6 separate regions of the Homo sapiens genome follow, and all the other regions are reported to be linked to region 2. The links are microRNA targets in miRTarBase. Many come from high-throughput screens and were not tested one by one. Region 2 holds a microRNA gene; each other region holds the end of a gene's coding sequence.

Region 1 (5,016 bases), not on the chromosome of region 2:
TTGGCCAGGCTGGTCTCAAACTCCTGATCTCAAGTGATCCACCTGCCTCGAACTCCCAAAGTGCTGGGATTACAGGCGTGCCCAGCCCTTCATATTCTTTGAACCATGAGCTCATGAATGTACCATGAGCATGTATTACTTTTATGATTCCCTGGTTAAACACAAATGAGATTTTTACTGTCAGCCTCAGACCCTTGTGTTCAACTAATATGTGACCACATAGTGACTGGGCAGGCCAGCCCTCACTGCTGGGCAGAGCTGACTCCAGTGCTTGATGCAAGGGGATGCCAACACAAAAGAGGACAGGGATGGCATATGGGTCTCCTCAGGAGCATGGGGTCCTCGTTCCACCCCGTTGTTTCTAGAGGGGCTAGCCCATCCCTCTCTGGGCTTCAGTGTCCTGATCAGTAAAATGAGGGGATGAGGATGCAGACAAGAGCTGCAAGATCTTTTTCAGTGAATTTCCTGACACTTAGGGCTTCTGGGTGAAGCCACTGAGGGGCTAGGGACATCGGTTTGGGGTTGTTCTCTGGGATTCTTGCAACCTTCAGAAATGCCCCAGGAGCTGACTGGTGTGGCGCCGGCCAGTCTTCTAGCCTGGCTATAGAGGAAGCAATCAACGGGCCAGGGGCAATTAAGGGCCAGAGTAAATCTACTCTCCCCCAGAATCAGCCCTGTTGGGAACGGCTGTGTGCTATTCCAAGTTCATGCCAATTAACTAACACTCTCTCATTTAGAGGGCAATTCCTTCTAAAACACACTGTGACTTCCAAGGAGCTGGATAATGCAATTCTGCCTGCTCCAATTACCGTGATCCGAGATCACCCAGGCCCAAACTCCATGAGGGCGCCTCAGCCCAGCAGCCTGTCATTCCCTCTTCCCTCAGCCTCACTGGAGGTTGTCGTCTTCCTGGGGAGCTGGAAAGCTGCAGGCAAGGGGCTGTGCAGTCATGACACCACTATTCACCCTGGCCTGGGGCCAGCTCAGATAATACCTCTCATCACCCCCGGGGCCCCTCGCTTCCTTCTTCCTCTGGGATGGGTATGTGAGGCATCTGGGAAGTCACCACCTACCACCCCAAAGGGTGGTGAGGTAATCCCCAGACACGGTCTAACAAGTGCCTGGGGTGAAAGAGGCTCTGTGTGGAGGAGAGTGCCTCCCTGTGTTGCTCTGAACCCCCAGGAGCACTTCACTGATATCCTGGCACCCAGAAGAGATGAGAAGTTAACGCGGTTTTCTTGTCATCACAAAAGCATCTTTCATGCCATAATCGAGTCTGGATTGGAGGGAAGATTTCACTAGACAGTGGCCAGAGGCTAGACACTCTGTTGGTTATTGCCCACCCCTCCACCCACTCAGCCATTTGAGGATTCCTATTGTAAGCAAGAAAGTGAAGGAGACAGGCACACTGCCTAAGAGGGGGATGCTGACATGCTAAGCACAGGGAAGCAGGACGACGTTCAGTTTTGACCAGAGTTAGCCCTGCAAGAGCAGGCTCTGTCACCTGGGCTGAGGGGGTGTGTTCTGTGATGCTGATGACTAGGGACTCAAAGGAGAGGGGCAGCATCCTCCAGAAGGTGGCTCCAGGCTGGTCACCAGCAGAAGGAAAAAGGGGAAAGTTGTCTTAACTGCGCCCACCTGAGTTTCAGGCACTTGACAACTGTCTCATCAGGTAGCTGTGGAGCACCCTCCCCTCCACTTCTCCACCTCCTGTAGCCCCTGCCTCCTCAGAGACTTGGCCATGCTTCCCCACAGCATACTCTGGAGGATACGGATGTGGGGAAAGCGTGCTTCCTGCCATTTAACTTCTCAGAAGGCAGCAATGGTAATGACAAATCCCAGAACTTAATGTTTTTACCTCTAACCAAAGTCAAAATGGCAGGTGCCCACAGTTCCAGTCTGTGCAATGACAGCAAACCCCGGGGAGTGACTGGGGAGGGCACAGAATCTGGAATAGCCTTTTGCTCTTGCATTAACTTTGAAATTTTTATTACAAAAATGTCTTTCCAAAAAAAATTTTTTTTTTGAGATAGAGTCTTGCTGTTACCCAGGCTGGAGTACAGTGGCACTATCTCAGCTCACTGCAACCTCTGCCTCCCAGGTTCAAGCAATTCTCCTGCCTCAGCCTCCCAAGCAGCTGGGATTACAGAAGCGCGCCACCACACCCAGCTAATTTTTTATATTTGGTAGAGATGGGGTTTCACCATGTTGGCCAGGCTGGTCTCAAACTCCTGACCTCAAGTGATCTGCCTGCCTTGGCCTCCCAAAGTGTTGGGATTACAGGCGTGAGCCACCACGCCTGGCCAAAAACATTGTTTTTTTTAATAGTAGAAGAGAGTATACAAGTGATTTAAAAAAACACAACAAAATCATTCTGCCCAGGTAATCACTGTATTAGTTGTGTGTCCTTCAAGATCATATAGGACACCACCTAATAGGGGGATGCTGATAAGTGCTTTTCTCTGCCCTCAAATTGCTTTCCCCTCAGAAATGTTGCATGTGGTAGAGTTGTATCATATACAGTGCTTAACTTTTGCAAATTCATCTGTGCCTAACCAAAAAAAAAAGAAAAGAGAAAAAGAAAAAAGCAGGCAATAGTGCCAGTGTCATTCCACTCAACAGGCATCTGCCCAGAATAAGCACAGTGGGAAAAGTGGTGTAAGGTTCCAGTTCCCTCATGCGATTCCAGCGTTTAAAGAAACATTTTTCTGGCCGGGCGCAGTGGCTCACGCCTGTAATCCCAGCACTTTGGGAGGCCGAGGCGGGCGGATCATGAGGTCAGGAGATCAAGACCATCCTGGTTAACACCGTGAAACTCCGTCTCTACTAAAAATAGAAAAAAATTAGCTGGGCGTGGTGGCGGGCGCCTGTAATCCCAGCTACTCAGGAGGCTGAGGCAGGAGAATGGTGTGAACCCAGAAGGAGGAGCTTGCAGTGAGCTGCGATGTTGCCACTGCACTCCAGCCTGGGCGACAGAGTGAGACTCCGTTTCAAAAAAAGAAACATTTTTCTTTAAGTCCCTACATTCAAGGCCAGTAGTACTTCAGCGGGAACTCAAATAGAGAAATGGTGATCTGCTCCAATGCTTTAGGTGCAATTTAGACTATGTCATTCTGTCTTAAGCTCAACCTAGGACCCAACCCCTAGCAAGATGATTCCACTGGTCACATACTATTTTTTTTTTCCCATTTAGTCTTCAAAGTTGTTCTGAACCAGTTTATACAGTTGACCCTTGAACAACTCAGAGGTTAGAGGCACCGACCCCCTTATGCAAAAATCTATGTATAACTTTTGACTCTCCCAAAGCTTAACTACTATAGCCTTCTGTTGACTAGAACCCTTACTGATAATATAAACAGCCATTCAACACATATTTTGTATGAATTACATACTGTATTTTGTATTCTCACAATAGGGTAGGCTACAGAAAACGTTATTAAGAAAATCATAAAGAAGAGAAAATATATTTACTATTCATTAAGTGGATCATCATAAAGGTCTTCATCATTGTTGTCTTCACATTGATGAGGAGGGGAAGAGGAGGAGGTGGAGGGAGAGGAGGAGGGACTGGTTTGTTGTCTCAGGGGTGGCAGAGGTGGAAGAAAATCCTCATATAAATGGACCCGCACAGTTCAAACCTGTGTTGTTCAAGGGTCAGCTGCATAATATGTCTTGTTCTTTAGATACTTAATACAAGACATTTCACAGCATGAAATGTATAAGATGTTCAATGGAAATAGTTCTCTTTTCATATCACAAAGGAAACAAACATCACCATGAAAAAAGACAAACTAGGAACAAATTTACAAACCAGGAATATATCACTTTATTCATTTCCAGATTATGAGTATGACACAGCATATACATATATTTAGATAATATATAAAACATAGAATAAACCGCAGGAAGAAATATTGGTCTGGAATTCCTTATGGGCCATCTTTAATTCTGTAAGTTCATGGTAAAGGTATCTCCCCCCACACTGGGGCAGGCGGCGGAATAAGCTCCAGCGTTCATGCGCCACTCACAGGACTGCTTACCCCCACTGCACTTACAATGCAGTCACAGAGTTACGGCATGTTCACCGGTGTCCATGACAAGCAACACCAAGTATAAATAACAGAACTACAGCAGAGCAAACTAAGATAAATATGTTTTTGCATCGTCCTCCACATAGTTTCCTTTTAAAAAGAAGAGTCACATCCAGGGGTCTATCCCTCGAGTCACAATTCCAGTTATTGCTGAAGGGAAAAAACAGAGAAGTGGCATCAGTTTAAGTTACTAGAAAATAGATGGTCAGTGTCACAGGCCCCCTGCCTCTGGTGACACTTGAGTGGACAGTGACTGTGGAGAATGGACACACATCTGCAGCACACAGGCAGGGAAGCACCCACCCTTGTGTTAGCAGGGACCTATCAGCTGATAATACTTTTGGGCTGATTAAGAGTTAAGATGGGGCTGGGCACGGTGGCTCACGCCTGTAATCCCAGCAGTTTGGGAGGCCGAGGCAGGCGGATCACTTGAGGTCAGGAGTTTGAGACCAGCCTGGCCAGCATGGTGAAACCCCGTCTCTATAAAAATTAAAAATTAGTTGGGCATGGTGGCAGGCGCCTGTAATCCCAGCTACTCAGGAGCCTGAGGCACAAGAATCCCTTGAACCTGGAAGGCAGAGGTTGCAGTGAGCTGAGATCGTGCCACTGCACTCTAGCCTGGGCAACAGGGCAAGACTCCATCTCAAAAAAAAAAAAAAGTTAAGATATTTTCTGAAGTTCTGTGAGCCAGTAGTAGGAAGTGCCTCATCCCCTCTCACCGTGGAGAGGGGAAACAGCAGTAACAGAGTATTTCACAGGAGCATTCCTGATTCAGTGCTGGAAGGAGACCTAAGATCTTGCGATATAAAGGCACCCCAAAGTGTCAACACAGAGAGGCTCTGCAGCTGAATTCTTAGACCAGAGCACCTTCCAGGAACACAGCTCCCCCCACTCACTGGTGGACCTTCCTCTGGGGAAGACTGGC
Region 2 (4,000 bases):
TCATAGCGGGTGGTCCGGCGGCTGCCATCAGCTCTTGGCTCAGCCTCGATGGTGATGGCCTGCGGGAGGGGCCACCAGACACTGCCACGCTGCCCTGTCACATCCCAGCCCCCAGGGCCCCTGTCACTGCTCATCCCCACCCCTGGGGTCTGCCAGAAGCCCTCTCCCCTCAAAGGCCTCCTGGACTCCGGCTAAGAGGCCGCCCTGCACCTCTGGTGCTCGCGCCTGTCTCCTCAGCACGTGCCCTGCTGGCGTCCCTGCCTTGCTGGTTTTTTTTTTTTTTTTTTTTTTTTTGAGATAGAGTCTCGCTCTGTCGCCAGGCTGGAGTGCAGCAGCACAATCTCGGCTCACTGCAACCTCGGCCTTCCCGGTTCAAGTGATTCTCCTGCCTCAGCCCCCTGAGTAGCTGGGACTACAAGTGTGCATCACCACGCCCAGCTAATTTTTGTATTTTTTAGTAGAGATGGGGTTTCACCATGTAGACCAGGATGGTCTCGATCTCTTGACCTTGTGATCCGCTTACCTTGGACTCCCAAAGTGCTGGGATTACAAGCGTGAGCCACCGTGCCCGGCCTGCCTTGCCTGTTTGTCAGCTGCTGGCGTCATCTGCCAAGAACCCCCTCTCACGAGGGGGCTGTTCACCGCTTTGTTCAGTGTAGCACCCGCTGCCCTAAGGGTCTCACCCTGCGGTGAGTGCTGAGTTACAGTCCCGCCTCGCCTCACCAAGCTTTCCAGATATTTTGAGTTTTACAAATTGAAGGTTTGGGGCAACCCTGCATAAAGCAAGCTCACTGATGTCATTTTACCAACCATGTGCTTGCTTCTTATCTCTGGGTCAGCACTTTTTAGGAATAAAGTTTTTGTTGTTGTTTTTGTTTTTTGAGACAGAGTCTTGCCCTGTCACCCAGGCTGGAGTACAGTGGTGCAGCTCATAGCTCACTGCAGCCTCAACCTCCCAGGCTCAAGCGATCCTCCCACCTCAACCTCCCAAGTAACTGGGCCTACAGGGGCTAATTTTTTGTATTTTTTGTTGTTGTTGTAGAGTCGGGGTTTTGCCATGTTGCCCAGGCTGGTCTCAAACTCCTGGGCTCAAGTAATCCCCTCACCTTGACCTCCCAAAGCACTTGGACTACAGGTGTGAGCCACTGTGCCTGGCCCCTAAAGTATTTTTAATTAAGGTATATACATTGTGTTTTAGACACTTCGCAGCCTACAGTACAGTGTAAATCCTTTTTTTTTTTTTGAGACGAAGTCTTGCTCTGTGGCCCAGGATGGAGTATGGTGGTGCAATCATAGTTCACTGCAACCTCCGCCTCCCAGGTTCAAGCAATTCTCCTGCCTCAGCCTCTTGAGTAGCTGGGACTACAGGTGTGCAACCCCACACCCGGCTAATTTTTGTATTTTTACTAGAGACGGGGTTTCAACATGTTGGCCAGGCTGGTCTTGAATTCCTGACCTTGTGATCCGCCCACCTTGGCCTCCCAAAGTGCTGGGATTACAGGCGTGAGCCACCGCAACCGGCCCTAATTTTTTTTTTTTTTTTCAATTTTGGCTCACTGCAACCCCCACCTCCCGGTTCAAGTGATTATCGTGCCTCAGCCTAGCAAGTAGCTGAGATTACAGGGACCTGCCAACGTGCCCGGCTAAGTTTTGTTATTTTTAGTAGAGACGGGGTTTCACTATGTTGGCCAGGCTGGTCTCGAACTCTTGACCTCAAGTGATCCGCCCACCTCGGCTTCTCAAAGTGCTGGAATTACAGGCATGAGCCACTGTGCCCGGTCTAAATCTAACTTTTAAATGCACTGGAAAACCAAAACAGCTGTGTGACTCAGTTTACCCCGATGGTCTGGAGCCGAACCTGCAACATCGCCAAGAATGCCTACACTGTTGGGTGCAATCCTGTGCCTTAAATCTACTTCTCTCCATTTGATGGATGAGAAAAACAAGGTTCCGAGAGGTTGAGGGGCTCCCCAAAGCTACACAGCAAGTGGGGGCACAGCCCAAACTCAAGGGCACGTCCTAACTCTCAGTTCCTGGGTAGCCCGCTGGGGGAGGGGCTGGCTGGGAAAACCTTCAAATGTGCTTGGCAAGGACTCTCATATGCCCCCATCCCAGAAATGTAGTGTCCACAACTCACAGTGGGACCTGTGGCTGGCAGGCTCATCCTTTAGTGCTTATAAAGATGGAGACAATAACCTCGACCTCCTCGAGGGGTTGTGGAGATTACAGGAGAGGCTGTGAGTCACACACATGGCACAGCACCGGGTCTGTCTGTGGACAGCACTCACTGTCTGGAAGCCAAGGTTGTGACCATCGTGACTGCTGTTTGGGGACACTCCTATGCACTCTCAGTCCGTGGCTGGAGTAGAGACATCAGGGCCGCAGCTCATGGCCTGGAGGACCTGGGAGTGCTCCAGAGGACAAACTAGGATCTGGACAGGAGCCACCCGAGTCACAGAACACTGGGAGGGGTTGCTGTGCACACAGAAAGTAGCGGCGGCGGCTGCCGGGGCTCCTGCCAGGCACACACAGGGGTCTGACCAGAGCTCTGACCGAGTCATATTGTTCCCGTGCTGGCAGGCCTGGCCCCCACGGGTAAGCACGAGACCCACTAAGAGAACGGAAAGCCGGGCCTCAGGGGAGCAGCCACTGGGGAAGGGAAGCTGCAACAGGCACACAAGCAGGACTCCGGAAACGGTGGCTACATCCAGGGAGGCGTGGATGGCCTCAGGTGTCACCCCATGGCTCAGAGGCCCAGGGGTCACACCCTTGGCCAGACCCCAAGGGGGAACCTCTGTGTGTCAGGCGCCTGCCCAGGGCTGGAAGCTTCACTCTGCCAACTCACTGACTCTGTGCTCTGGTAACAAGCCCTCATCATTCCCATTCACGAGGGAAGTGGCTCAGAGGGGGAAAGGGACTTCCTGGGGACGCACATCAAGCAGGGGCTAGGGTTTGGGCCTAGGGCTGCCTGGCCTCCCTCTCCCAGTGGCAGGGGCTGGCGTGGTGGCCGGTTGGGGCAGGGGCTCACCTGGGCGGGGCAGATGGCCTCGCAGAGCTTGCAGGCAATGCAACGCTCCTCCCCGGATGGGTACCGGCGCAGCGCATGCTCCCCACGGAAGCGAGGGCTCAGCGGGCCCTTCTCGAACGGGTAGTTGATGGTGGCCGGTTCCCGGAACAGGTAGCTCAGGGTCATGCCCAGGCCTGTGGGCAGCACGGGTGTGGTGGGCAGGGGCACCCTCCTCCCCCATGCATCCGTGCCCACCCGGCACCTTCCCTGTCCCCTCATGCCCAGGACGCACCTCGGAAGAGCTCAGTCCACAGCAGGGTGCGGGCTGCCCGGTCAGTCACTGACTTCATGTCCATCTCGGGATCCTGCATGTTCACATACTCTGCAGAGAGGCGGGCAGGGAGGCCATGGCAAGAGGCCTCACACACTGTCTCCCTGGAGCCTCAGGGAGAGCAGCCTGGCCCTCACTTCCAGGTGCAACTGCTGGGCTACAAAGGGGCTGTACACTCACCACACCTCTCCCCAGCCTCAGCAAGGACCCTGGAGGCCGCCTCTGGCCTGAGCCCGTCCGTGCCTACCTCTCCCTGTGCTTGGGTGGCCATTGGAGCCCAGACGCACTTCCCTGCCCAACAGGGCTTGAAAGAGGAATCAAGGGGGGTAGGTGGGGGGCTTGAGCCTTTGCCTTCACCAGGGACTGGCAATAGGCACAGGTACCCATGGCTCACACCTGGCAACCCCCTCCCCATCACACCCAGGGAGCTCTGAGATCACACATGCTAACCTCGGCAATGATGGACCCTGCCCCTGTGAATCAGAGTCAGTCTCCATCACCATAATCATTTTAAAAGTGGAAACAGGCTCAGAGAAGAACGCCCCTGACAAAGCCAGGACTGGAACTCAGGTCTCTTCCCCTACTCCAGCAGGACCAGTCAGGAACACCTGAGGCTAGAGGCCACCCAGGTACTCACTGTAGGTGGCTGCCACTGCACTGCT
Region 3 (5,016 bases), not on the chromosome of region 2:
TTCACTGATATGTACCAACAATGATGAAAATAAGCTTCCAAAGAAATTTGCTCACAGACCATTAGAAACAGTTGTACTTGTGCTGAAATCCATAAGTACTGCTCATGATATAAAAGAGTGCAATCTGTTCCCTTTTTAAAGATCTATCACTTTTATTTTTTATTTTTTTTTGGAGATGGAGTCTTGCTCTGTCGCCCAGGCTGGAGTGCAGTGGTGCCATCTTGGCTCACTGAAACCTCCCAGGTTCAGGTGATTCTCCTGCCTCAGTCTCCCAAGTAGCTGGGATTACAGGCTTGCACCACCATGCCCAGCTGATTTCTGTATTTTTAGTAGAGACAGGGTTTTACCATGTTGGCCAGGCTGGTCTTGAACTCCTGACCTCAGGTGATCTGCCCGCCTTGGCCTCCCAAAGTGTTGGGATTACAGGCGTGAGCCACTGCACCCAGCAGATCTATCACTTTAGAAGTTACTGTGGTAGCTGGGTGCAGTGGCTCACGCCTGTAATCCCAGCACTTTGGGAGGCTGAGGTGGGCAGATCACCTGAGGTCCGGAGTTCGAGACCAGCCTGACCAACATGGAGAAAACCTGTCTCTACTAAAAAATACAAAAAATTAGCTGGGCGTGGTGGCGCATGTTTGTAATCCCAGCTACTCGGGAGGCTGAGGTAGGAGGATCGCTTGAACCTGGGAGGTGGAGGTTATGGTGAGCCGAGACTGCGCCATTGCACTCCATCCTGGGCAACAAGAGCGAAACTCCGTTTCAAAAAAAAAAGAAGTTATTGTGGTAACATGTAATTTCAAATCTTTCCAATGCCCAGCAACTATATCTCCCCTCTCGCCCATCCAAGACGGAGTCTTGCTCTGTTACCCAGGCTGGAGTGTAGTGGCGAGATCTCGGCTCACTGCAACCTCTGCCTCCTGGGTTCAAGCAATTCTCCTGCCTCAGCCTCCCAAGTAGCTGGGTTACAGGTGCCTGCCACTGCACCTGGCTTATTTTTGTATTTTTAGTAGAGTTGGGGTTTCATCATGTTGGCCAGGCTTTTCTCAAACTCCTGACCTCATGATCTGCCTGCCTTAGCCTCCCAAAATGCTGGGATTACAGGCATGAGCCACCATGGCCAGCCACAACTATAATTTTATTATATTTTGTCACTTAAAGCATCCCCTCAGTGTATCAGTTGAGTTTAACAATATCATTTATTAAATATGGCCTTCCTGGCCGGAAGCAGTGGCTTGCCTGTAATCCCAGCACTTTGGGAGGCTGAGGCAGGTGGATCATGAGGACAGGAGATTGAGACCATCCTGGCTAACATGGTGAAACCCCATCTCTACTAAAAATACAAAAAAATTAGCTGGGTATGGTGGCGGGCGCATGTAGTCCCAGTTACAACGGAGGCTGAGGCAGGAGAATGGCGTGAACCCAGGAGGCGGAGCTTGCAGTGAGCCCAGATCACACCACTGCACTCCAGCCTGGGCGACAGAGCGAGAATCTGTCTCAAAAAAGAAAAAAATATGGCCTTCCTGTCTTATGATGTGACATCTTACCAGAAGTGTGCATCTTCTTTATCTGTCTTCCTTTCACTCTCACAGTTTATAAGGGTTTAGGATTCCTACTTATTGATCTTTGTCAAAAGTCTGTTTGTCAGAGTAAGAGAGTCCTGAAATAAAAGAATAAGGGAACCTGGGTGGAAGGGAAAACCTCCTCCATGGCCAGCACCCACATTTTAACATTAAATAAGAAAGCAATTTAAGCCAGGTGCGGTGGCTCACACCTGTAATCCCAGCACTTTAGGAGGCTGAGGTGGGCAGATCACTTGAGGTCAGGAGTTCAAGACCAGCCTGGCCAACAAGGTGAAACCCCGTCTCTACTAAAAATGCGAACATTAGCCGGGTGTGGTGGCATGCGCCTGTAATCCCAGCTGCTTGGGAGGCTGAGGCAGAAGAATCGCTTGAACCTGGGAGACAGAGGTGGCAGTGAGCCAAGATCACACCACCACCGCACTCCAGCCTGGGCAACAGAGAGCAAGACTCTGTCTCAAAAACAAACAAACAAACAAACAAAAACGTAATCAGAAACAGCATCAGTCTAGCACCTAAATTATGTATCCTACTGAAGAGATAAGTGTTTAAGAGACTCAAGCTCATGCAATCAGGTGTGCTGAGGTAACAGGCAACTAAAAGAAGCAGAAAAAACCAGTTTACAAAAAAACCAAAGCACAGCTTCAAATAAGACACAGCTCTGCCCTGGGAACTCTTGTGGCACAGCCACCTCGTTCAATATGGCAGGCACTGTCCCCAAAACAAAAGACATCAGCAGAGGAGACACAGTCTGTTTCAGGGCAGTACCAAATATATAAAAAAACAAGGTTTTGGGGAAGATACATGCTATGAACCAAGCACATGGCAGGTATCCAGAATCCTCAGTTCTATATAGATTTATCAGACCATTATCCACGGGCTTCCTGACACAGAGCTTCCAGTCATCAGGAACTAGAAGGTGATGGGCATACCACATTTGGTGCCTGTACATAAGAAAATCTGAGGTGGAGTGGGGAATGGGAACACTTTCTTTACTCAGAATTTTATTTTTCAGTGTGTACACAGAATAAAAATCTTCTTAGTGCTATAACAATCTCAGAATTCTAATGCTTTGCTGCTAAAAGCAAATAATATAAAAATTGTTTTTCTCAATGGATAGATATCTTCTTGCTTTAATTATATAATATTTTCTTCAATTTTTGGCATTGCTCCTTCCTTATTTTTATTATTTTTTCTCTTTTTTTCCTGCAAACACTATGGCAACTTGGGCATTTGCTACTTCTTGATTGCAGCATCTAGAAGCAGATGACAAAATGAACGAGTGAAAAAACAACTTTTCCCTGTGCTTAGTTCACTTAAGCTTCTTTGTTTTGTTTGATGGTCTTGACAGTATGATTTTGGATCGCTTAATATATAATATTGTGTTGTGCTAGAAAAAACTAACATATACATGTATTGTTTTCATTTAAAAATTAATTAAAGAGAAAGAGAAAAGCAACATTTTAATGCCCCAGGAATTGAAACTAACGTTTTCTGTCTCGGCTGGACCCCTACGCCCATCTTTTGATTTGCTGATATCATTTGCCATGTGATGGTCAATACATGTCTGCTGGGTAAGCAGTAAAATTCTGGGGGCAAGCCAGTTTTGAGAAGCTTATAATCTGACTGGGGGAGACATATCTTCAAATTTTGGAAAGATATTTAATTTCTAATTATCTTAAAAGCAAATAAAAGAAACATCAACTGACCATGATCCTGCACATTTCTCATCTCAGCATCACTACGGTAAAATAAGCCAATGATGAACACTGCCATTTCACTACAAACTCTCTCCTTTTATTAACGTTGAGTATGAACACGAAACGTGATCACCTGTTTAAAAGAAAAACACCGCTTTGTTCTTTGACAATTTCAAAATAAGGAACTTTGGGTTTTTATTCCTTTTAAGAGTTTCTGTAGTTGACTGTTTTTTTCTTGCTATACAATTCTCCTTGGATCTGTATTACCTCAGCTCCTTAGATACGGCAAGGGTAGAGAGTCCTCACTTAAAAAAATTTCCTAATTGTACACATTAAAAGCTAATATTTAAGAAAAACCCTCTTAATCCTCCAACCCCTATTCCTACTGTGAATAATCTGGTTTAATACAAGTTAAGTCTATAAATAAATCTGTTCTTTCTCCTCAAAAAAACAGTTAAGAAACTTTACAAGAATTACAGGTTTAAAAAATTTACCGAGAGAAATCAAAGTACTGTCACTTAACCCCTATTAACATACGGTGTTCAAGCCTTCCAGTATCAGCGCCTTTTGCATAGCATCGCTGCTAGTCGTTTCACTAGCATGCTGGCTAGGAGTCTTCTTAGTCACTCTTTTCTTCTCCTTGATAGTGTCTGTACTCTGGCTTCAGCTCCCATGTGTTTTTGTGGATCCCTTTTACATTCTGAACACCAATTTCTTTTAAGATTTCCTTCAGGTACACCTAAAACAAAAACAAAACCCCTAACAAATGAGATTATAAATGCAGGGGACAAAACTTAAAATAAGATGATATGCCAAAGCACATATGCAAGCCATAAAAATTATGATCCTAAAAGCTCAGCAAGATTTCTCTATAAGGAGGTTCAATAAACTGCCTTTTGATTCTACATGTGCGACATGGTAACTGCACTAAATATATGATCATGTGCATTAAAGGAGTTGAAAGTCCTGAATGCCAACAACTTAAAAGCTAAAACAAACAAACAAAAAAAACACAAAAAACACTACATGAAATACACGAAAAAATTACTGGTCCTCACTCAGTGTGACACGGTACACCAAGGGTAATCTGCCCTTGAGTTCAGTGGCCTCATGGGACTCAGTTCACAGATTGAAACCAGTAGTTTCAGGAGCAGTAGCATATAAAAAAAATGAGCAACATTTTTGAGAATATTCTATCAAGCAGGCATATGACAGGTATTCAGAATTCTCAGTTCTAAGGTGAGTTCTCAAATTTGTTTTTAGGCCACCCACTTATTTTTTCCTATGTGAGAAGGAGAGTTGTTATTTGTATTTACTACTATTTGTACTTTAGCCAAGCTTGCCAACACAGATAAGGGAGTAAGAAGTGATAATAAGGCCGGGCTTGGTGGCTCACGCCTGTAATCCCAACACTTTGGGAGGCTGAAGTGGGCAGATCACCTAAGGTCAGGAGTTCGAGACCAGCCTGGCCAACATGGTGAAACCCCGTCTCTACTAAAAATACAAAAATTAGCCAGGCATGGTGGTGGGAACCTGTAATCCCAGCTACTAGAGAGACTGAGGCAGGAGAATCACTTGAACCCAGGAGGCAGAGGTTGCAGTGAGCTGAGACTGTGCCATTGCACTCTAGCCTGGGCAACAACAGTGAAACTCTGTCTCAAAAAACAAATAAATAAATAAAGTGATAAGAAGACATCCCCTAAAACTATCAGGGATGCAGCCTTGTGTTTGGCTTCTCC
Region 4 (5,016 bases), not on the chromosome of region 2:
AAACTCTGTCTCTACTAAAAATACAAAAATTAGCTGGGTGTGGTGGCACATGCCTGTAATCCCAGCTACCTGGGAGGCGGAGGCAGGAGGATCACTGGAACTGGGAGGCGGTGGCTGCAGTGAGCCAAGATCACACCACTGCACTCCAGCCTGGGTGACAGAGTGAGACTCTGTCTGAAAAAAAAAAAAAAAAGAATCCAAAGTTGTTATGAAGTTCATGTGCTACCAGTTTTTTAATGAAGACTTTTTAATTTGCAGTTCAGATTGTTGAAAATGTGAGCTGTACATTAGCAAGGGTTTACTGTAAACATGTTATGATTCAGCTTTTGATAAACAATGTTTACACTTTTATTTAATGTCATCCATTTTTCCACAGGGTATGGACAGTGGATTTGCAGGTGGAGAAGATGAAATTTATAATGTTTATGATCAAGCCTGGAGAGGTGGTAAAGATATGGCCCAGAGTATTTATAGGCCCAGTAAAAATCTGGACAAGGACATGTATGGTGATGACCTAGAAGCCAGAATAAAGACCAACAGGTGCCAAGCCATACAACTCAATTTCAGTGTTTACACTGGTGAAAGCAAAGTAGTTCATAGTTTTTTCTCCTTTTCCTTAGATTTGTTCCCGACAAGGAGTTTTCTGGTTCAGACCGTAGACAGAGAGGCCGAGAAGGACCAGTGCAGTTTGAGGAAGATCCTTTTGGTTTGGACAAGTTTTTGGAAGAAGCCAAACAGCATGGTGGCTCTAAAAGACCCTCAGATAGCAGCCGCCCCAAGGAACACGAGCATGAAGGCAAGAAGAGGAGGAAGGAATAGGCACAGGTCTCTCCAAAGTGAATGAACTCTTACCCATAACCCTAATGATGCAAGTCATATGGGGGAACACTTTGTAAATGGTCAGGATAAAAACCAAATCTGGGTGCCAGATCCCAGCACTACTTTTTATTACTGGAGAAATGGGGGGGATAGAAAATTCTACTTTGAATTATTTAGTTTTTTTTAAAGAGTGGGTTGTGTTTGTGCTTCTCCCACCTTTCAGCATTTATAGAACATGCTGCCCCACATACAAAGTCAAGACCACTTACTTTTATGTGACACTAGTAGTTTGGGGTTAATGTTTTGTGTAAGAACAGCTGCATATGAGTAAAGTTACCCCAACCACAGTGAGGAGGAAGATGTTCACATACTGGAACTGTCCTGCCAAATAAATTTTGCCCCTATTGTGCTCTGTTTTAATTTGGAGTGGGCAAAGTAACCTCTTGCTTGGTGCAACTATTTGTTTCAAATAAAAACATTTAGACAAAATTCTCAGTTATGTTAACTTTATTAATAGGCTGCAGTCTCAAAAATCTTTCTTTTCATCATCAGATGTTTGCGGAAGTTTTGGCCTTCTAGTGTGAACCTGGACCTTAAAAAAATAAGCACTGTAAGGGAGGAAAGGCAATGTCTGCAAAAACATTCAAACTGAAAATCACTTTATTAGGGAGTCAGTATGAATAATGAATAACCCAGGCAGTTTTTATTTGTCCCTTGTTCTTTCGTTTTCTCCTCAAATTCCTTTTACCATCTTTGTTGGTATTATGACTCCCTAACCCTCAATTAAAAATTGTAAATCAGACCAGGGGCAGTGGCTCAGGCCTGTAATGCCAGCATTTTGGCAAGCTGAGGCAAGAGGATTGCTTGAGGCCAGGAGTTCAACACCACCCTGCAACATAGCAAGGCCCTGTCTCATTAAAACTAAAATTTAAAATAAAATAGTAAATCAGTTTGGCCCAGGATCACATGGTGGGTAAGCCAAGATTTCAGCCCCAGCTTGCCTGACCTGAAAAGCAGACTGCTGGCCAGGCGCTGTGGCTCACGCCTGTAATCCCAGCACTTTGGGAGGCCGAGGTGGGCGGATTGCCTGAGGTCAGGAGTTTGAGACCAGCCTGACCAACATGATGAAACCCAATCTCTACTAAAAATACAAAAAAAATTAGCAGTGCGTGGTGGCGCATGCCTGTAATCCCAGCTACTCGGGAGGTTGAGGCAGGAGAATCGCTTGAACCCAGGAGGCGGAGGTTGCAGTGATCCAAGATTGCACCATTGCACTCTAGCCTGGGCAACAAGAGCAAGACTCTCAAAAAGAAAAAAGAAAAGTAGACTGTTATGTCCACTGTGTTACATATCTTGCTACCCATTAAAGGGTCATCTTGTACTTTCCTGGACCTTTTAAAACTGGGCACTCTACCACCCCCCATTTTTTTTTTTTTTTTTTTTTTGAGATGGAGTTTTGCTCTTGTTGCCCAGGCTGGAGTGCAATGGCGCGATTTTAGTTCACTGCAACCTCTGTCTCTTGGGTTCTCCTGCCTCAGTCTCCTGAGTAGCTGGGACTACAGGCATGTGCCACCACGCCCATCTAATTTTTTTTGTATTTTTAGTAGAGATGGGGTTTCTCCATGTTGGTCAGGCTGGTCTCAAACTCCTGACCTCTGGTGATCCCCCCCGCCTCGGCCTCCCAAAGTGCTGGGATTATAGGCATGAACCACTGCGCCTGGCCTACCACCGCACCATTCTTTTTTTGTTGTTGTTTTGTTTGTTTGTTTGTTTGAGATGGAGTCTCGCTATCGCCCAGGCTGGAGTGCAGTGGCGCAATCTCGGCTCACTGCAGGCTCCACCCCCTGGGGTTCACGCCATTCTCCTGCCTCAGCCTCCCGAGTAGCTGGGACTACAGGCGCCCGCCACCTTGCCAGGCTAATTTTTTGTATTTTTAGTAGAGACGGGGTTTCACCGTGTTAGCCAGGATGGTCTCGATCTCCTGACCTTGTGATCCGCCCGCCTCGGCCTCCCAAAGTGCTGGGATTACAGGCGTGAGCCACCGTGCCCAGCCTCCACCCCACCATTCTTAACAAGCATTAAGGCAGCTTCAGTTACAAATCTCTCCAAGTCCCCATCATTCCACATTTATGATCTATTTAATTGATACATAATTAAATAGTACCTACATGTATATCATGTATGTATCTGGCATAGAAATAAATTTACCTTTACTCCATCTATAATATGATTTTCCTGTTGTAGTGCATTCCGAAGTCCTTCTTCTGAAGAAAACTGAACCCAACCCAAACCTCTGTGAAAGCCAGTCTCCTTGTCCTAAAAATTCAAAATATAGGAAAAGATTAATCATGAACTTCAGAAAGTTTCCATGAGTTCCAAATCAAACTACCAACTTTTTCATCTGCCAAAAATCGGACTTTTTAATTTAATTTTATTTTATTTTTAGGCAGGGTCTTGCTCTGTCACCCAGGCTGGGGTGCAGTGGTATGAACGCAACTCACTGCAGCCTCAACTTCCTGGGTTCAAGCAATCCTCCCACCTCAGCCTCTTCAGTAGCTGGGATCACAGGTACATACCACCATGTCTGCCTCATTTTTTATATTTTTTGCAGAGATGGGGTCTTCCCATCTTACCCAGGCCGGTCTCAAACTCCTGGGCTCAAGCAATCTTCCCATCTGGGCCTCCCAAAGTAGTGAAATTACAGGCATAAGCCACCATGCCCAGCCAAAAATCGGATCACAGACATTTATAAGTGTCAGTAACCTTGCTTTACACCCTTCCTGATTACCCAAGGCTAAATCCCTGTGTTGTTAAGCTTCCTGTTTTCCTTGCTGCCATTAGAGAAGATACGGGTCATGAGCTTTCTGTGTCATTCTAGATGCAAACCATACTAACAGTAATAGCTAAGGGAAATTTTGATCAGTACTCTTGTTCTAAGCTTCGTTTCTAGAAACTAGAAAATTAAGCCTCAAAGCCTTGTTGCACTCATTTCTGAATCCAGTCACCCTCACCACCACCACGACTATCATCACGTGTTCCTAATGAAAAACAAGAAAAGATAATATTTAGCCCTTACTCAACCTAGTTACAGACTTCTGGTTAATTTAAACAATTTTGCTATTTTCCCTTGTGCAAAAGTTTCAACCTATACATCGCATACGGAAAACAGATTCTAGAGTGCTTGGATGTACCCTGCCCCTCCAGCCCTTCGACAGAAAACAGATATTAAGATGTCTAGTCCCTGTAGATGACAAACTGGTCCTCATTAGTCTCATTCAAGTCATGCTGTGCTTTGCCAAAAAAAACAAAATCTTACAATTGCTCCTCTACTTCAAGGATAACTTTATAAGGATTAACCTAGAAGACGGAAAGTTTCTGGTGATGTCCCAATGATCCATTCATTGTAGATACAACAATTTCTAAAGCATTCCTTTATTGTCATGTGACCACTTCCACAGTCAAAGGCATTAAGAAATTTGTTTATATTAAAACATAGGCCAGGTGCAGTGGCTCAATCCCAGCACTTTGGGAGGCTGAGGTGGATGGATGGCTTGAGGTCAGGAGTTTGGGACCAGCCTGGCCAACATAGTGAAACTCCATCTCTACTAAAAATACAAAAATTAGCTGGGTGTGGTGGCCCATGCCTGTAGTCCCAGCTATCTGGGTGACTGAGGAAGGGGGATCACTTGAACCCAGGAGGCAGCGATTGCAGTGAGCTGAGATCACGCCTCTGCACTCCAGCCTGGGCGACAGAGCAAGGCTGTCTCAAAAAAAATAACTCAGTCCAGGTGTGGTGGCTCATGCCTGTAATCACAGCACTTTGGGAGCTGAGGTGAGTAGACTGCTTGAGTGCGGGAGCTCGAGACCAGCCTGGGCAATATGGTGAAGCCCCATTTCTACAAAGAGTACAAAAAATTAGTCAGGTGTGGTGGCACACGACTAATCCCAGCTACTCAGGAGGCAGAGGCAGAAGGATCCCTTGAACCCAGGAGTTCAAGCCTGCAGTGAACTTGATTGTGCCACTGCACTCCAGCCTGAGTGAGAGAGAGAACCTGTCTCAAAAAAGGAACCAGGATTTCCAACTAGAGTACAATGAATGGAACAAAAAAATATTTTTTTTGTCATATTTTATTTTGTTTTACCAACATCAAAGCCGCCTTTTATTTAAATCTAAGATCTATTCTTTGCAGGTCCTAT
Region 5 (4,830 bases), not on the chromosome of region 2:
AACACATATTAATCTCATTTAGTTGTACATAAACTGTGTCTTAGAAGGACACTGTAGAAAATCTTTCCGCAGCTCTAAAAATGGATTAAGGTAATGACTAAAAACATTTATTGGTTTATTTTTCATCTTTAAAATGTTTGCATCAAAGAAAAATAATATGGAATAAATAATATCTAGTGATTTCCCTGATGTCACAATATGCCATTGCTTTTTTACAGAGATAGACTCTCTGCTAGTGACATGCTCCAAGTCCGAAAAGTTATGGAACATGTTTATGAAAAAATTATCAACTTGGATAATGAGTCTCAAACCACTAGCTCTTCTAATAATGAAAAACCAGGAGAACAGGAAAAAGAAGAAGATATTGCTGTGTTGGCAGAGGAGAAAATTGAACTTTTGTGCCAGGACCAGGTAAGTGGACTTGAGGACTACAGCCCCAATTTTTCCAGTGCTGGTGCTCATAAAGAGTTACATGCCTTTGGGTGGGGGGCTTCTACTTTTAGAGGGGCTCTAAGGAGCCCTGGGCCTCTCCTACCTAAAGCCCACCCTAAAGCTCCTCTTTACTGCTGGGGAGATTTTCAGAGAAGGGATACATAGACAAATGTGGATGTGCTGGTAGCTTTTTTTTCTGACAAGAAAAAAGACACATGGTCTTCTTGATTTGCAAAAAGCATGTGCCATGTTTATGATTTAGAGTGAAGGTGTGCGGAGAAATGGCAGAACTGTTTTTTAAATCAAGATGCACTCAAAACGTATCCTCAGAGGAATGGCTGAAAGATGGCCTGGTGTTTCTGGCATAGTCACAAAAGATGTACATCTCACTAAGCTCAATTTCATTCCCGCATGCATGGAAGCCGTGACAGCAAGAATTGGATACCAGGCATAGGGGAGGAGTGAGCAAGCTGGATCACCTGATGAGAGTCCCTGAGTTAATGATAAGGTTTTAGATATTAGAGACTTTGAAATTTTTAAATTTAATTTTGGCTATTCAGGTTTTGGATCCAAATATGGACCTTCGAACAGTGAAACACTTCATATGGAAGAGCGGTGGAGACCTCACCCTCCATTACCGTCAGAAGTCCACGTGAAGGCTGGGCTAATGCTCCTGGATATTCATTTACGACCTTCCTCTATGGCCCCAAGAGTAGTCCTAGGAAGCCCACTGATCCCCAACGGGAGCAAGACTTCTAACGGCTGATTGGTATGGACCGAGATTATCTTTCAATTGAAGTGACTAATCGAGATGTAATATAGAAACCAGTCTCCATGTGTAGATTAAGCTGTCCCCAGGGAAGCAGAGTGCAAGAGCAGAAGAGCCCCAAGCAGACTATGTCTTTCAAGATGTACAGAAGACTGACAACAGGCCAGTGCAGACTTTGCTTCCTCCTTTTGTTTCAAAGGACCTTATCTACCCATTAACACTTGTTAGAGACACCTCAGTCGGGCCACAACTGTCTCTGTTTCAACTTTAAGCCCACACACTCTGTAGCTTTTCTAAAACAGTACATTCCATTCATGCAGTAGATATGAAGGCTTTTTCCAAGTTTGTCATATAAAGTAATCAAATTGTTTTCACCGTTTAAGACAGTTATTTTTAATGGGAATTTGCTGTTGCACAATTTGAGAACCAGCCCATTTCATAATAAAAGATTAATGTTGGGCTTGTTGTTAATATTGCATCTCAGATGTGTTCTTGTAGGAAGATCTGTTGAAATTCCAGGTGCTGGATCATAGCACTTGGACTGTTGGGCCGGAGTTTGTGCAGCCCATGCCTAGCGATGCTGCACCTCCCATGATGTCCTGGCTTTGTGGCAACCCCAGGGAGGTGCAGCAGTTTCACTCCTTCCTCCACTGTGTCCAGTTTTATTTACACAAAGCGAGCTGAGACCACAGGTTCTTGCTCTGGATGAGCAGCATGACACCATCAAAATTTAAGACCATGATGAAATTTCAGTTTCATTCAAATGTTACCTAAAATTTATGGTGTCAGAATAAAGGGAGATCATAGTGAGTTAATTTGATATTCATATCCTGGAAGTATACATATTTGTTTTTCCAAAGTTTTATATGCAGGTTTTTGTTGTACCTGTATCCAGATCTTCTTTTCACTGTTCTAACAATCTAACACTTTCATAGAATCATTTGGATCTTGTATAGAGTGTAACTTATTGGGGATAAACACTTCAACTTTTGGCAGAAAATACTTTGGATTCTCCCCAAGGTCATTTGTATTCAGAGTAAATCAGTGGTCCACCCCCATAAAACTGTAAGACAAGCCTCCTGTATGAAGCCAGAAGCACAAGTGCCTTCAGAGGGCAGTTGATTCCAGTCCAGTTGCCTCCCTAGCTTGTGTGTGGCCTGCCTCCACCATAGCAGGGACTAGGGAGGGAGGCAGGGAACGTTTTTTCTTTTCTACATCTTCACAGGTTCGGCTGGGGGCAGCTGATAGGCCTAAGGCCATACCTTACTATTTAAGATACTCTGATCGCACAACTGCAGAGACAGGGTTCCCTCACTGCTAGTCAGCTTCTTTTGGAAACTGGACAGGCCATTGCCACCTGCACTTTGAAGAAGTGAGCAAAGACGTGGCCACATTTCTAATAAGTTGAAATGGTCTTTCTCCCTTCCTCAGAGAGCAACCAGCTTCTTTTTTTTTAAAAGTCCTTTCTATCTGTTGGATACAACAGTGTGCTTTTGGTGCACATTTTTTAGCAATAGTTGTGAATTAATGGCAAAGAAAAAAAAAATTATTTACCAGCCCTCAGTTGTGTTTGCCCGAGGGGCCTTTGAGCAAAGAAATGGGTTTTGCTGGGTCATTTTGCCCTGTGTGCTAAGCCTTGGGTGGCTGCATTCCCCTCCTGTCATAGATCTGACCCCCAGCATGATTGTATTTCTTTCCCCTCCAGTCAAACCGTAATACAGTTTCCAGAAAATTCGACAGTCTGCAATGCCAAAAGGGTAAAAATCTGTATTTCACAGTTGTATAGAATAAAGGCTTTAGTTAAAATATTTCAAAGTGTAGTACACATTTATTTTCATTTGTTATTTTCTTTCATAGCAGATTACAGAGAAAGAAAGAAACCTCTGGTTTCATGTTCTCCCTGGAAATATTAGCATTGATACCCATTTTATCCTCCAACTTATGGGGGAAGGGAAAGTAAAAGTGAGGGAGGGAAGAGCCAGAACCTTTGGGTGAGGGCAACTTTGGGTCAGACTGCCAGGCTACAGAGTTAAGGGAAGCTGGCCCCAGAACAGTCCTGTGGCGATTCTGTTCTACTTCCTGCATTCCAGCAGACTTGACACTGGGCTCCCAGACGATCCAGGACACAATGCCTCACTGTTATGCACACGTATCAGCTGCTCTGGTAGGCTTGACAAGGGTTTGCTTTAAATGAAGGGTTTGCTAATTTGGGACCCTCCCTCCATATAGTTGGCCTGTGCCCCCCAGAGCAGACATTCCTTGTCCTGCATACCTGACACAGCTTGTGAGTTCCCTGCATGTACACCAGCATTACAAATGATCCTGTAAAGGTGAGACTTTCAACTAGGCACAAGCTAGAAGACGAGGCCAGAGCAGCTTTCATAGTAATTAGCAGTGTGGGAACTGAGGGTCCAGTCAACACAGCAGAGGACTTCAGGTGATGAGGGGCCGTCCCCAGGTGGAGTGCAGGGCCTAACCTAGCCTTAACCTCCAAAGGCACCTGGGGTGGGGAGAACAGCTTCCTCCCCTACAACAGGAAAGAACAAAAGGGTCTTTACCTACTCTTAATCTAATCCCCTAATTCCCCCTTGGGGTTGGGAACCGTGCGTGGATAGACCTAGTCAGGTAGACTGGCTTTGAGAAATTGCTTAGGGTGTTGAACTTAAATTTGTGACTTTTATTCACTATTGGGGCTGGGTAGATGCCTTGTATATTTAGAAGAGATCACTGTTTAAGTTTGGGAGCTAACAGGAGTTGCCACTGGGGATACAGGTCTGTGGCATGTAGTCCCTGAGGAAGAAGAAATATTGTGGTCTGGGCACAAATGGGTCTCTGCTGAAGGGCCTAGAATTTCCAACGCACCTCCCTCCAGGAGATGGGGGCAAGTACACTGCCTCTCTCTCCCTCCTGTGACTAGCATGGTGATCAGCCTGAGCCAAGTGTAGCATTGTAGCCTAGGGACAAGGACACATGACAGAGGACTCAGTGTTTGGGACTTGAAAGGGGGTGGTCCCAGGGCTCCAGGGTCCCTTCCAGTACAGATGGGGTGGGCTGAGCTGTGCAGGAAGAATCAAAGCGACCAGGCCAACACTGGACAGCAACCCCTTCCTTCCTCACCTCATCTTCACACTGGATTATGACCAGACCCTGCTGCCTCCTGGGAAGCCCCAGTGACCAGAGCAGGACCAAGCACTGGACCTGAGGGTACACGGCCAAAAGATATCCTCCCACAAGGCCCATGGCCCCCTCTCACCACCCACTGAGGCCTCATGTCCCACCAAAGCAGCAAGGAATCCTGACCGCATAGTGCAGCCCGGGCTGCCTGCCCACATCTGGGCCTCATGAAATGTCATCATGGGCCTTGTCACAGCCCAGGGTGTTATTCTGTGGTAGAGATCTGGGCCTGGCTGTCCAGCCCCTCAGCCTCCGTCCCAGTATCTAGGCCCTCTGTGCTTGCTGGTTCCTCCTCAGCCTGAGCTTCAAGCAGCTCGGCGGACAGCCCATCTTCTGGTGAGGCTGCAGAGGTGAGACTGTCAGGAAGAGTCAGCTGAGGCAGGTGGTCCGCCTGGGCTTGGGCACCTGGGCTGTCCAGGAAGGAGACCTCAAACTCTGACCCAGACCATGTAGCC
Region 6 (5,016 bases), not on the chromosome of region 2:
ATGCAGCGAACATTAAGAACCCACTCTGTGTGGCACGTGTGCAGAAGCAGAGAGCATGGGTTTCATTTTCAAGGCATTATCCGATCGAGGAACTGGAGCTCACCCCTCAATGAAGTAATTCAAGTCCTCCTTGCCTTTCTGGGCCTAGAGTAGTCATTGGTAACAGCTAGCATTTGGTGATTTAACCCTCAAATGACTGTATGAAGTTGGCACTGCTAACCCCAAGAGAAGTGAGGAAACTGAGGCTCACAGAGGCTAACTAATGTGCCAGCGGCCACAGAGCCTGCGGCTGAATTCCACTAAATGCCTCCCTGTTCATGTACCACTTTTTCCCCTGAATCCTTCTCTTTAGGATTGATCTCTCCTTTCTGTGTGGGAGGTTAAAGAAAAAGTACATTTTCCTGGCCTCTTCATAAATTCTAGTGATTATTTAAAAGTTAAAGGGAGCATTAGGCAGTGAAGGATATCACTTAAGAACCTTATTAACCAAATTTGTTCAGAAACCCCGGTGCGCAGAAGAGTTAATTGCCCATAAGCCCCAGTCGCCTGTTTGCATTACAGAAGACTTTGGGATGGGGAGGAAGTTCAATGAAAGGAGCAGTTTTTCTGAATTTTTTTCATTCTTGGTTTTCACATTTCCAGATGGTCCCGCGTCAGAAGTATCAGCAGAGGGTGAAGAGATCTTCTGCTGACCCTCTTCCTCTCTGCTGAGGCAGCTGCCTCCTGATCCTGGCCAGCCCACCTCTCCTGCTGTCCCCGCGTGCACAAGTCTCTTACACTGGACGCCCACTGCTCCTCAGCGTCCAGTCCTCCTGGGCGGCCCCAGGTCCTGGACAATAAGCAACAGATGATATTGAGTGTCGGGTGGGGAAGGAGGCCCAGACTCTGCTTCGGCCATGATTTGTGACTGCCCAGGACTCTCAGGTTGGGCTGGCCCTACTCAGGATTACACTGAAAGTAATGGCCTCGTAAGTACAGGTGATGGTTTTGGACACGTCAGGAATTCCTAAAGGCTGAAAGAGTGTATCCAAGTAAGGTCTGAACCTCCGAATGCCTTTTATTTGGGGGAACACAAAACCAAACAGCAGATGTTTTGGACTTGATCTGTGTACGTACATGGGGACCTGTCTGCATATACACACGGGGAATGCCAGAAGAAGGCCCAGTCTGCACCAGGCGTCTGGTCAACTTAGCACAAGGGCAGTGCCTGGACGGACCCGGAGCCCCCGCATATCAGCAGTTCACCCAGTACTCCTCAGAGACTGGTTTCCCTCTAAACCCATCCCGGGCACATACCACCCGTGTTTTGCATGTATTTCTCATTTCATTTTAGGGATGACAAACATTTGTGAAACCAGTGAGAGAAGGCTTGATGTGTATAAAAGACGTGATGTGCACCACCTCGATCTCGGTGTTTCAGGCACTAAAGCAACAAAACAACCCATAGTATCTCATTCTGTCATCAGATCCAGAAGAAATATCCTGGTTTTCCAGCATGTTTACCCACATGTTTTGGCCATGGATAAAGTGAAGAGGCCTACTCACCATTATCCCTGCAGCGTGACACCTTTTGATTGTCACTGACCACTCAGAAGGGGCCACGGCCTCCTGGCTGTGTTCCTGAGCCCCCGTCGTGCCTCTCCCAGACAGCAGCTGTCTGGCCCTTGCTGGGTGAGGGCACACCACTGCCAGGGGTCAGCCTCGCACCCAGGCCAGGCAGAAGCTGTGCTCTGAAGCTAGGACAGCTGGCTGAGAAGTGGGTTCAGGCGAAGGGTGAAGCCATGTGTAGCAGTTCCTGCCAGTGCAGATCTGGAGAGGAGCTGGCCCGGAAGGCGTGGTTGTGAAAGCGCCCTTCTTATGTTAGGAGGCCTTGGCAAAATTGGATTTCTTCAAAAATACATGTAAAGGTCTGTTGTTGAATTGTACTCTGCCCCTGGAAGCAGATACAGATGGCTGCCTGCTGCTCGGCTTTGCTTTTGCTTTTCCCACCGTGTTTTCATCTTTGTTCACTTGAGGCTTTCCCCAGCTGGTGTGTGCAGGACAGTTCATGGTAATGTTGCCCTCTGAGGCCCCGTACACCAGAAGGGAGGCCCTGGAAAATTTTGTGCTTCCAACGTGGCCTTCAATTCTTGCTTTTTTGCCCCTCGGAAGCATGGGGCTTTTGAGCACACTTAAAAAAAGAAAAATCTGTAACTTGGTGCTTATTGATGAATTGCAAGCTGGCCTTGCAGATGGAGATATTTATCTTTCAGTTTATTTGAAAGAGGTCTGGTTTAAAATTTGTAGCCTACATTTGTTTTATTTATTGTATTTGTGTGTTTGTGTTTGTTTTTTTTTAAGGGTGAGCCAGGTCTAGCCCAACAGTCTAAACTATCCAGTCAATACCGAGTGAAGTGGCAGCCAGCACTGTTCACTCTGTGTCTTTTGAAGTGCCTTGAAGGCCCAGATGAAATTTTAAAGGGAGGGGGTCCATGTCCTTCCCTCCCCCACCCCGCCTCATTCTTTAATCAAAGGATGTCTTCTCCCTTGTTTGAGAATGAAGAAACTCGCCACCTCTGACCTACCTTTGCCTTTTTCTGTCATGGAGAATACTCACCCTTCAGAAACAGACCAAAGGCCAAAACCTGCTGATTTTTCTATTGAAAATATGTCCCCTTGCAAAGACCCTAAACAAAAAGTTAAGTTTCTTTCTTTCACCTATTTGTACAACTCCAAGTTACAGCTGAATCTGTCGTGACTTTCCTGAGATCTACCCGGGGCTTGGCTGTCTGTTCTGGGCACTGGCTCCGAGTTCCCCTCCTGGGATTTGCAGGAGGGCAGTACTGAACCTGCATTCTTCTCCTTGTAAATGTAGGCCGGGTGCCCCTGTTCTCCGGGTTTGGAACAATACGAGGTTGGTGCTGATGGGATTTACTTGCGTACGTGCTCTTCACAAAAACACCGTGGATGCTGAAGTTAGAGCACGTCGCCACAGAGCTTGACATCAATGTTAGAGGGTCTCTTACTCCCCGCCCAGCTGTGATGTTTCATCTGCTTTGGTTGTTTTGGTGGTCTTTTTTAAAAATAGAGATTTCACATCTGCCCAGACCCCACTCAAAACGATTTGGTCAGGTTCTGGTTGGACAAGTTTAAAATCAAAGTAGTGCCCGGAATTCCCTCAAACCACCCAACTTCATCCAGGAATACAGTCTGCAGTGCAGCAACAGAACCGCTTACCAAGAACTGTGCTTACATACCTTTGTCATCTCTCTTCCCCCCTTGGAAGTTGTCCTCAGGGGGATTTGTTCCTGTCCTGGGGATTTACCTGGGATGGTGGCTGCCTGTGCTTTTGCTCATGGCCTTGACAGTGCTCTAGTTGCTGGATCTAATGGCCTGTCTTGGTTTCTATCACATGAGAAGGGGTTGTTTTTTTGGGGTGACTCGGACTGAATTCCCCATACTGTTTCCACGCCGGGACACCATGTTCTCCATCAAGCTAAAGAAATCACGTGCCTGAAACTGTGCTTAAGTTTTGGGGGAAAGATGGAGTTCCTATCCAGAGCCCCCAGATTTCCAGAATCGAGTGAGCTTCCTGGAAGGAGACTGCGTCTTCTCTCAATTCCAGTCATCTCAGTCGTTGTCGTTAGGTGACATGTGCACTTTAAATGCTCTCATCGGTTGGCTTCATTTTCAAGACAATCAAATGTATTGACTGTGTTTTCTTCTTAGAAAATGGAGAGGGTTAAAAACATGCAAACTGCCACTTTCAACCTTTGCCAGTATTCCCTCTACCCCCGTGAGAGCTATCTGGGGGGAAGAATCCTTACCAAGGTTTTTTTGGAAAGGTACGAATCTTAACTTTTTTCCCCTTCTGTGTCTCAGGGTAATACTATTCAGAGTCGCCCCTTTGCTCATTTTCTCCCGTATTTGTTACCTTCCTGAGGCCTCAGTATTAGTCGTGAGCACAAAGTTTTGAGACCTTTGGCGTTGTTTCTTGATGTGGGAGGGGAGGTGTTAGTGCATGCAAGGGTTGAACTAGATAGACCCTGCCTTAGTAGAGGGTGGGACTATAACCTTAGAGGCCAGAACTTGATCCAGAAGTTGCTGTCCACAGAAGTGCTTTCTATTTCATCATTTTTGTTTCTAGGGCTCTTTTTCTGTAGCCAGGTCTTCCCAAGGATTTTAGTATTTGCATTGGAGTTGAGGTTTACTCTAATGATGGTGGCCCAGCTGTGCCCAGAGGACAGCCAGGCAGGCCCTGGGAGGGAGTTTAGAAAGACAGTCCTGGTGAATGGGCTTCAAGTGGTCACAAAGAGGGTGGCTGTGAGGTGACCCCAGACACTGCAGAACGATGTGCACCCTCTGCGTTTTGGATGTCCTTGGAATGTGGGAGCCTAGAAATAACCCTGTGGATGGAATTGGGGCAGCGGCTGCTGGAGATCTGTGTGCCTTGCCTTCCTTCAGCAGGACCGTCTAGGTGCGCAGCCACCTATGGATGCGTCCCAGCCAGCCCCGTCGCTCTCGTCCATCCTCAGAGACAAAGAAGAGGGCAGGGAGTTTGGGCTTGGTTTTGAACTTTCCTTTCAATGTAGCAAAGCATTCCTAGTTAACCAGAGCCTTGGAATCTACTGCCTGCTGGCCAGGCTTTAAAATGAAAAGTGTTTTAATGCTGCCATAAAAGGGAGGCGGGGGGGAGGAAGGGAAAATAAAGGCATCTTTCCAAGTACTCATCTAATTTAATTGTCAAAAGATTGATAGGCCATGAATTACTTCTCCATCTCACTAAGGGTTAAAGGCGTGCAACCCCCCACTGGCTGTGTCCCCTGCCACCGAAGTGAGTGACCTGCCCTACAACCAGGTGGGACCACCTGTGCTGCAGTCCGGAGGGGCTTCTGCAGGAAGCACTCACCCCCCACACCTTCCCCGGCCTGAGCTTCCCCTACCTTTCGTCACCACCTGAGGGCATGAGCACAGGCCATGGGGCGTGCCTGGTGAGTCTGCCTGTGGTTCAGGCTTAGCCTGTGGTCTCCTGTGTGC

Evidence for each region. Region 2 holds the annotated microRNA hsa-miR-4691-5p (GUCCUCCAGGCCAUGAGCUGCGG, at 2,380-2,402, opposite strand). A microRNA usually pairs through its seed, bases 2 to 8, with sites in the 3' UTR of a target mRNA and lowers its output. Matches are read on the target gene's strand: a 7mer-m8 pairs with bases 2 to 8, a 7mer-A1 pairs with bases 2 to 7 and ends in A, and an 8mer does both.
Region 1: the mRNA of CFAP20 is a reported target of hsa-miR-4691-5p. Seed matches in the 3' UTR shown: 7mer-m8 at 4,166-4,172.
Region 3: miRTarBase lists GTF2F2 as a target of hsa-miR-4691-5p. Seed matches in the 3' UTR shown: 7mer-m8 at 3,643-3,649.
Region 4: the mRNA of SNW1 is a reported target of hsa-miR-4691-5p. Seed matches in the 3' UTR shown: 7mer-A1 at 1,171-1,177.
Region 5: miRTarBase lists GORASP1 as a target of hsa-miR-4691-5p. Seed matches in the 3' UTR shown: 7mer-A1 at 3,721-3,727 and 7mer-m8 at 3,132-3,138.
Region 6: miRTarBase lists AKAP13 as a target of hsa-miR-4691-5p. Seed matches in the 3' UTR shown: 7mer-A1 at 4,672-4,678.

The regions. Positions count from the first base shown.
Region 1 is chr16:58,109,790-58,114,805 of GRCh38, forward strand. CFAP20 (cilia and flagella associated protein 20) reads right to left here. Exons shown (of 6, transcript NM_013242.3): 6 at 3,803-4,241. The coding sequence ends at 4,236. Among named protein-coding and RNA genes, the nearest start is that of CFAP20, 17 kb to the right of the region's middle.
Region 2 is chr11:68,032,312-68,036,311 of GRCh38, reverse strand. MIR4691 (microRNA 4691) reads right to left here and starts at 2,415; the gene lies at 2,331-2,415. NDUFS8 (NADH:ubiquinone oxidoreductase core subunit S8) reads right to left here. Exons shown (of 7, transcript NM_002496.4): 3 at 3,976-4,000; 4 at 3,300-3,389; 5 at 3,029-3,201; 6 at 1-59. It overlaps MIR7113 (microRNA 7113), which reads right to left and starts at 3,448; the gene lies at 3,390-3,448.
Region 3 is chr13:45,282,442-45,287,457 of GRCh38, reverse strand. It overlaps GTF2F2 (general transcription factor IIF subunit 2), which reads right to left. Exons shown (of 8, transcript NM_004128.3): 8 at 2,565-4,016. The coding sequence ends at 3,897. Among named protein-coding and RNA genes, the nearest start is that of SNORA31B, 51 kb to the left of the region's middle.
Region 4 is chr14:77,713,891-77,718,906 of GRCh38, reverse strand. It overlaps SNW1 (SNW domain containing 1), which reads left to right. Exons shown (of 14, transcript NM_012245.3): 13 at 377-540; 14 at 621-1,308. The coding sequence ends at 819. SLIRP (SRA stem-loop interacting RNA binding protein) reads right to left here. Exons shown (of 4, transcript NM_031210.6): 3 at 3,028-3,135; 4 at 1,309-1,411. The coding sequence ends at 1,346. Among named protein-coding and RNA genes, the nearest start is that of SLIRP, 8.3 kb to the right of the region's middle.
Region 5 is chr3:39,093,656-39,098,485 of GRCh38, forward strand. It overlaps GORASP1 (golgi reassembly stacking protein 1), which reads right to left. Exons shown (of 9, transcript NM_031899.4): 9 at 2,944-4,830. The coding sequence ends at 4,581. It overlaps WDR48 (WD repeat domain 48), which reads left to right. Exons shown (of 19, transcript NM_020839.4): 18 at 219-411; 19 at 993-3,009. The coding sequence ends at 1,088. Among named protein-coding and RNA genes, the nearest start is that of GORASP1, 12 kb to the right of the region's middle.
Region 6 is chr15:85,743,986-85,749,001 of GRCh38, forward strand. AKAP13 (A-kinase anchoring protein 13) reads left to right here. Exons shown (of 37, transcript NM_007200.5): 37 at 643-5,016. The coding sequence ends at 692. Among named protein-coding and RNA genes, the nearest start is that of LINC02883, 12 kb to the right of the region's middle.